Linked DNA regions of Homo sapiens. The protein of the gene in region 2 interacts with the protein of the main gene of each other region in a pairwise test. Each region holds a gene or a part of one and is shown on either strand. Other genes may lie near its edges.

Region 1 (3,753 bases), on a different chromosome or scaffold from region 2:
TTTGGTCTAGGCAAATTCCTGATTATTAAAAAACTATATTAGGATAATAATCACTTGTAGTTTACAAGCTATTATCCCCAGTCTCTTAATCCCTTATTTTGGCAGTACATATTTGATTAAGAGATAGCTAAGTATTATGTTCCTAATTGCTTAAGTAGATATAGTATGTCAAAATGGTGTTCTAGACTAGAATTCAGGACTCTAGGTGTGGTTTTGGCTTAAACATGTTGCCACACTGTTTAGTATTCTTTAGCCTAAGAGATTTTATTTGAAAATGAGGTAGTTGGATGATTTTGTAACTAAACGCCACCACCAACCAACAGGATTGAGTTGACATTTATAGAGAACTCTACCAACAATAGCAGAATATACACTTTTTTCAAGCATCTATGGAAGATTTGCAAAGATAGATTATATCTTGAGTCACAAAGCAAATCTGACCAAATTCAAGAGGATTGAAATAATACAATGTGTGTTTTCTGACCATAAATGAATCTAACTAGAAACCAATAAAAGACAACAAAATTTCCAGATTTTTGGGAATTACACAGCATTCTTAAATTTATGGTTCAAGAAAAAGTCTTGACAGAAATTAAACCTATTACACAGAAATGAATGAAAATACAACACATCAAAATTTGTGGGATGCAGTTAAAGAAGTATTGATAAGGATATTTATAGCACTAAATGATTACATTAGAAAAGAGGATTGTTCTTAAATCAGTAGCGTAAAGCTACAGCTCAACCAAAATAAAATAATCTGAATAGTCCTATAACCATTAAAGAAATTGAATTTACAATTTTAAAGCCAAGCAAACTGATCTTAAAGCAAGCAGAAAGAAGGAAATAATAACAGAAATCAGTGTAACTGAAAACAAGCAAACAAAATCAATGAAGCCAAAAGCCAGTTCTTTGAAAATTTCAATAAAATTGATACACTTCAAACAAGACTATCAAAAGATAAAAAGAAGATGCAATCATCAGTATCCGGAATGTAATGAGATGTCACTACTGATCCTAAGGCCGTTAAAAGATAACAAGGGAGGGAATATTACAAACAAATTTATGCTCATAAATTTGACAACTTAGGAGAAATGGATTAATTTCCCCAAAACCACAAACTACCAACCAAACTCAGCCAACATGAAATAAGTAATAAAATAGTCCTATAACCACTAAAAATATTTGATTAATGATTGGAAAGCTCATGAAAAAGAAATATCCAGGCCCAGATGGCTACACTGAAGGTTTCCACTGAACATTTAAAGAACATCAATTTTACATGCTTTTAAAAACTAGAAGAGGAGGGAAGATGTTCCAACTCATTCTGTGAAGTCAGTATTAGCCTGACACCAAACTAGATTGCCCCCCAAAATTAAAATACACAAAAATGCATGTAAATATATGTAAAATATGTAAATCTATAAAAAATACTTATAAAATATATGAAAAAATTTATAAACCTAACAAAATATATAAGGATATGTGAAATGAAAATTATAAAATACTGACAAAGGAAAAGAAAAGCCCTAAAAACTGGAGAGACATACCATATTCATGGATTTGAAGACACAGCATAGTAAAAACGTCAATTCTCTCCTAGTTGATATATAAATTTAATGTAATTCCTATGAAAAATCGAGCATGATTTTTTATAAATATGAATGAGATGATTCTAAAATTTAGAAATGGAGAATTTTTTAAAATGGAAAAATAAAGGAACTATAAAAAATTTTGAAAAAGTGTAAGAGAAATCACTACTTGATTTCAAGACATAGCCACAGTATTCAAGACTGTGTTATTGTCAGAGGCATAGACTTATAGATGGATAGCACAGAAATAACTCTGCACAAGTACACCAACTGACGTTTGACAATGCAAAAATAATTCAATACAGGTAGAATTGTCTTTTTAACCTGTGCTGGAACAGTTGGATATCCACAGGCAAAAAATGAATTGTGACTTAAATCTTATACTTTATGCAAAAATTAACACAAAATTACTTATAGATTAAAATGTAAAATATAAAACTATAAAGCTTTTCTACAGGAGAAACTCTAGGGACCTAGGACTAGGAAATGAGTTCTCAGATATGACATCAAAAGCGTGATCCATAAAATAAAAAACTGATTTATTGGGCCCCATCAAAATGTAAAACTTTTGTTTATGAAAGACACTGTTAGGGGAATTAAAATACAGACTGGGAGAAATTCTTTGCAAATTACAAATCCAGCAAATGACCTGTCTCTGAAGTACATAAAGAACTCTCAAAACTCTATGTTAAAAGCAAATAAAAATAAAACCTAACAATCCAATTTAAACCATGGGCAAAAGAATAGTCATTTCAACAGACAGGATATACAAATAGCAAATAAGCACAAGGAAAGTTGATCAACATTGACTTAGTGACTATTAGGGAAATGCATATTAAAACCACAATATATCACTACATATTTGGATGGCTAAAATTTAAAAATGGTAACAATACCAAATGCTGACAAAGATGTTTGGGAACTGGATCTCTCATACATTGTTGGTAGGAATATAAAATGGTACAGTCACTCTAAAAAATATTTTGGCAATATCTTAAAAACTAAACATACAGTTACCGTACAACCCAGCAATTATACTCCTGGACATCCCAGAGAAATGAAAGCTCAGGTCCACACAGAAACTTGTACACAGTTATTAATAAAAGCTTTCTTTGTAATATCCCAGAAGTCCCAACTAAAATGTCTTAGCAATAGGTGAATGGTTAAACTATGGTACCTCCATATCACGCAGTGCTGATGAGCAGTAAAAAACAACTTGGACATCTCTCAAAGGCATTTTGCTGAGTGACAAAAGAGAATCTCAAAAGGTCACATACTGTATGATCTCACTTTATAATATTTTCAAAATAATAAAACTGTAGAGATGAACAACATATTGATGGTTACCAGGTATTAGGGAAAGAAGACTTTAGGGGAGTAGGTATGACAATAGAGGGGTAGCAGGGAGGAGATCATTGCAGTTAAAGAATGGTTCTGCCTTTTGATTATGGTGGTGTTTAAATAAATATGTGTACATATGATAAAATGGCATAGAACTATACACACACATCATATTAATATCAATTTCCTGGTTTTGATATTGGATTATAGGTAGATAAGATGTGACCATTGGGAGGATTGGATAAAGGGCACTGAGAAACTAATATCTTTGCAACTTCCTGTGAATCCATAATTATTTCAAAATACAGAGTTTCTTAAAAACTGTCTTTGGTGTATTCTAGAGTAGTGGCTCTCAGACTTTTGGTCTTTACACTCTTAATTGAGGACTCCAATAAACTTATGTAGGCTACATAAAAATATTTGTTTAAAAATAACAATAAACCCACTGTATATTAACATAAATAACAGTCTTTATGAAAAAAAGCCAGATTTTCTTTTAAAATTTTATTGAGAATAGTATTATTTTAAATGTACATGAATCTATACATAATAGCTTTTGGCTGCATTATCATGTATATTGAATTATAGCATGTATAGTGAAATATAGCTAGTAAGAGCACAGTAGGAATACTGAGAACAGAGTGGATTAATCTCTGAAAAAGCATATATTTATACACTAAATCTCTACTACCTTGAAATTTTAGGAAAGAAGAATACACAACTACAGATTCTGTTAGTCATCAGGGCAATAACATAGATTTTGTAGCCTCTGGAAAATTCATGAGTATGAGGATGAGAAAGTCGAATAACATCTTAGTAT
Region 2 (3,753 bases):
CACTGGAGTTTGAGCCGGTCCTACCCTGGGCCACAGCCCAGACTCCTCGGCCCACTGTGGCACCTCGCTGCTAGCGCTGCCCCCCGGCCTTCATCGCAGGCCGCGGCCCCTGCGGGCCACCGCTCCCGCCCCGCCGCGCTGCGCCCGCAGACCCAGGTGGCTCCTGGAGCACTCCGAGCCGCCTGGGTCGGGACCTCAGATCCACTCCCAGCCCCGCGAGGCTGCCCTGCCGCTTCGCCCAGAAGGTCTCTTCGATCTGTCCGCTTCCCGGAATCGCTCTCTTAGGACCGGGTCCTGTGTGGCCCAAGTCCTCTCCTCCTAAAGAAACACTTTCAGGGGGAAGCAGCAAAAATTCGGGGCTCGCCTGCCATGGCTCAGATCAACTACTTTCATCGCCTACCTAAACGCTTTTTCACACGCGGAGCTGCAGGACCCCTCGTGCTACCCTCCCCAAATTCCAATAGCTTCCACCACAAGAAAAAGCTGTGATCCTGTTACTGAATCCTAAAAACGCCACCCGTTCCTCCAGCCCCCAACTCCGACCTCCAGCCCTCTGCTCTGGCCGGCGTGTAAACTACTTATCGGCCCCTCGATCCCGATTCCGTAAACAGTCTGGATCCTATAAACCGAACTCTAGACTGGTCCTAAAACCCAGCCCTAATTCAGGCCGATCCACAAGCCCCTACCCCTCAATTCCCAACCCGAGTCTCCCCACCGCGCGGAAACCCCCGGCTCCCCCGTGAAGAGCCCCGGGAAAGGACGGCCCATTTCGCTCGTTTCTTCCTGGGGATCGGGAGCCAGGAAAGCCCGTCTCCTAACCCGAAAGAAATGCAAACTTTGAGCGGCAGATTCGGGATCCTGCGCCATCCCCCTCAGCTCTCCGCTCTCGATCGCTTTCAGTTCCCTCTTTTACGAACTCATCCCCTAGTTCTCGAGCCAGAAGGGCTCCCGATTCCCAAGCCTCGCGCGGGCCCCTACGCCCGCCTCACCAAAGATCCCCAGCAATCATGGAAAGCCGGTGACCCTACACATTCTCGCTCCTCCCTGGGTGAGGGTCCGTGCGTGTAGCCCCTCGGATCCTGGCTTCCCGGGCCCCGCCGGTGTTCCCCTGTCTCCACTGATCCGTCTGCAAACCCTCATTCGCCCTGCCTCCCCAGGCCGCGGCCGCGGCTCCTCGACTCCTCCGGTCACCTGGCCCCAGCCTGGGACCGCTCCCGCCTCCAGCCGCTGGAAAGCATCTCCAGGCTGGTGGCGCGGAGTAAGCGCCGGCCCCAAGGACGCCCGAAGCCGGGAGAAAGAGAACCTGGAGCCTGCCCGCGGTTCCCAGCCTCTCCCCGCGGAGCGCCCGGCCGGGAGCCTTCTGCACCCGGGCTCGGGCCGGCGTGCCTGTTCCTATTCTCGGGTCCCCTGGCGCTCCTGGCGCACAGCTCCCCGCCCGCCCGCTACGGGGTTGGGCCCGCGGCGATTCGAGTCCGCAGCCCGGCTCCTTGCACCCGAGGACAATGCGCGGCCGGCCACGGGCCCAAGCGCGGCGAGGCGGCGGCGGCGGCGGCGGCGGGGCTGAGCGCTGGCCGGGCAGGGGAGCGGGCGGCCCGCGGGGCTCTCGCAGCCTCCGTGCCCGGCCTCGCCGCCCCTCGCGCTGCTCCGCTCCGCGCTCTCCCGGCGCTTCCCCAGCTTCTCTCTGCACGCTCCCGCCGTCCCTCGCTGCTCCCTGCCTCCCTCCTCCCTGCTGCCTCCCTCTCTCTCCTCCCTGCTGCCTCCCTCTCTCCCTCTCTCCTCCTTGCCCTGTCGCAATGAATAATACTCTGGCTTGGGGACTGGAATAAAACACACGCGCTCTGAGGCAGCCGCCCGCAGCAGCAGCCGCCGCCGCGCCGCCGCCGCCGCCTGCAAAAGCGTCTCTGACATGGAAATGAATGACAGCTTACCTGATGCCAATCTTCATCAGACTGACACCGGCGTGACAACACAGCCTATACTTCCCAGCACTGCTCGGGACGTCAGCGGCACAGGGACCCGCCCCCCGGACCCCCCCTTCACACACCTCCCCTCTCCCCACTCCCCCTTTTCTCCCCACCCCCCATCACCCCCACCCACTCCCGGCCCGGCCGCTGCCAAGTCGGAGGAGCCGCTGGAGTGTCTCCCTCTACCGGAGGCTCTCGGGCGGCGGGCGCGGGCCTGCTCCTGCGGCAGGGAGGCGGGCGGCCTGGAGAAGCGGCTCCGCTCGCGAGGAGCCTCGGATGGGGAGTGCGGTGGACCCCCAGGAACTCTGGAGCACCCTCCCGCCCCCAAGCCAAGTCCTCCTTAGCGAACAACCGGGGCCGAGTTCCAAGATATCACCGGTGCTGAGGGGACCGAGATGAGGTGAGATTTTCTGTGGACCCCAAGAGAACTCCCCAGAAATGATGAAACTTAAAACGGGCAAGAAATCCTTCCTTCCACCAGCACTCCCCCTCCCCCTTTTCCTGCCTGGCTGGCCTCATTTTTATGATTGCATTTGAATAATTCTCATTACCCTGGCCCCAGAAAAGGTGTTCAGATGACACTCTGGTTAGTTATTCCTGGTCTCAAGAGCTTTTTCTGCTGTGGGCTTCCCGGGGTGTCTGGTTCAAGGTGGGGCAGAGGGAGAGAGGAAAGAGTGGATAGGCTTTGTCAGTAAAGCACTTCTTTGCAAATGTCAGGCAAGCCTGTTCTAAGCCACTGCTATTTTCATTCTAATAAAAAGTCCTCAAGAAACTCAGTGAGTTCCCAGAGTTCTGGGGGCTGGGGTGCAGTCATATAAAGGGAAAGACCAGCTGGGCTGTTTCAGCCTGGGCCTGCTGGGGTGGCTTCATCTACATCAGGGAGGAAATGGGCTCCTTACATGCCCTCTACAGTGGAAGACAAAAGCAGGCATGTGTAGACCCACAAGCGCCTCCATTCACTCAGCAGAGATCACAGTCCTACTAAGAGCCACACACAGGAGCACACTTGCTTGCTTCCTCAACTTAGCACATGGCCCTCCGCATAAAGGGACAAGAGAACCCCTTCTGCCTCTGGAAGTTTGCTTCTTGCTCCCCATAGAGGAGCCCTTTCAGCCAGTCAGGCAGCCATTGATCCTCTGACCCCAGGCCAGGCAGGGGGCCTGGAAGAAGCCCAGACAAAGACACCGACAAAAGCGGGAAAGCAGAAAGTGAAACCCAGCCTCTGGGTTTTCAGTAAAGAATCTGACCCAAGAAGTTGAAGGCTGCCCCTGAGCTCTTCTCAGGCCTCTGGGTCGCCACTCACCCGCCTCCGTCATGGGCAAGGATGAGAGCTGTTAGCATTGCCTGGCTCAGGGGAGGCAATTGAGACCCTTCTTATATCACATCCCAGATACACACACTACTGTTTGTCCAGATCCTCCCAATACCCTCAAATCCACCCACCAACGTTGCTTGTGGGAGAAACTCTTCAGTGGTAGCCCCCATTATAGACAGATTAGAATCCTCTCACCTTCACATAGAACCTTCAAAAACTTCACTAGGTGGATTTATGTCACCCTAGCCTCTGATCTGCAGTCAGAGTCTCTGGCTGCTGACAGCATAATCGCTATTATATATTATACATTGTATAATAATATAATAATAATGAATGCACTTGCCCTTTTTATGTGGTACAGAAGCGGCCAGATTCTCCAACCCAGAGGCTGGAGGTCAGGCTGCCATAAACTCTCAGAGGGAAGCCCTCTTCAGATAAGGGAGGGGGAGGGGAGATCCATTTGTCTCTGCCCAG

What was found. The genes of interacting proteins can lie anywhere in the genome.
Region 1: the proteins of PKNOX2 (region 2) and C10orf88 interact in binary tests that used the Homo sapiens proteins (3 or more experiments, as listed by UniProt).

What each region holds. Positions count from the first base shown.
Region 1 is NC_000010.11:122,933,557-122,937,309, reverse strand, and holds part of C10orf88 (ATPase PAAT), read left to right. Parts: intron 1-3,753. UniProt on the Homo sapiens protein: ATPase that regulates mitochondrial ABC transporters ABCB7, ABCB8/MITOSUR and ABCB10. Regulates mitochondrial ferric concentration and heme biosynthesis and plays a role in the maintenance of mitochondrial homeostasis and cell survival.
Region 2 is NC_000011.10:125,162,952-125,166,704, reverse strand, and holds the start of PKNOX2 (homeobox protein PKNOX2), read right to left. Parts: upstream 1,955-3,753; 5' UTR 1,929-1,954; intron 1-1,928.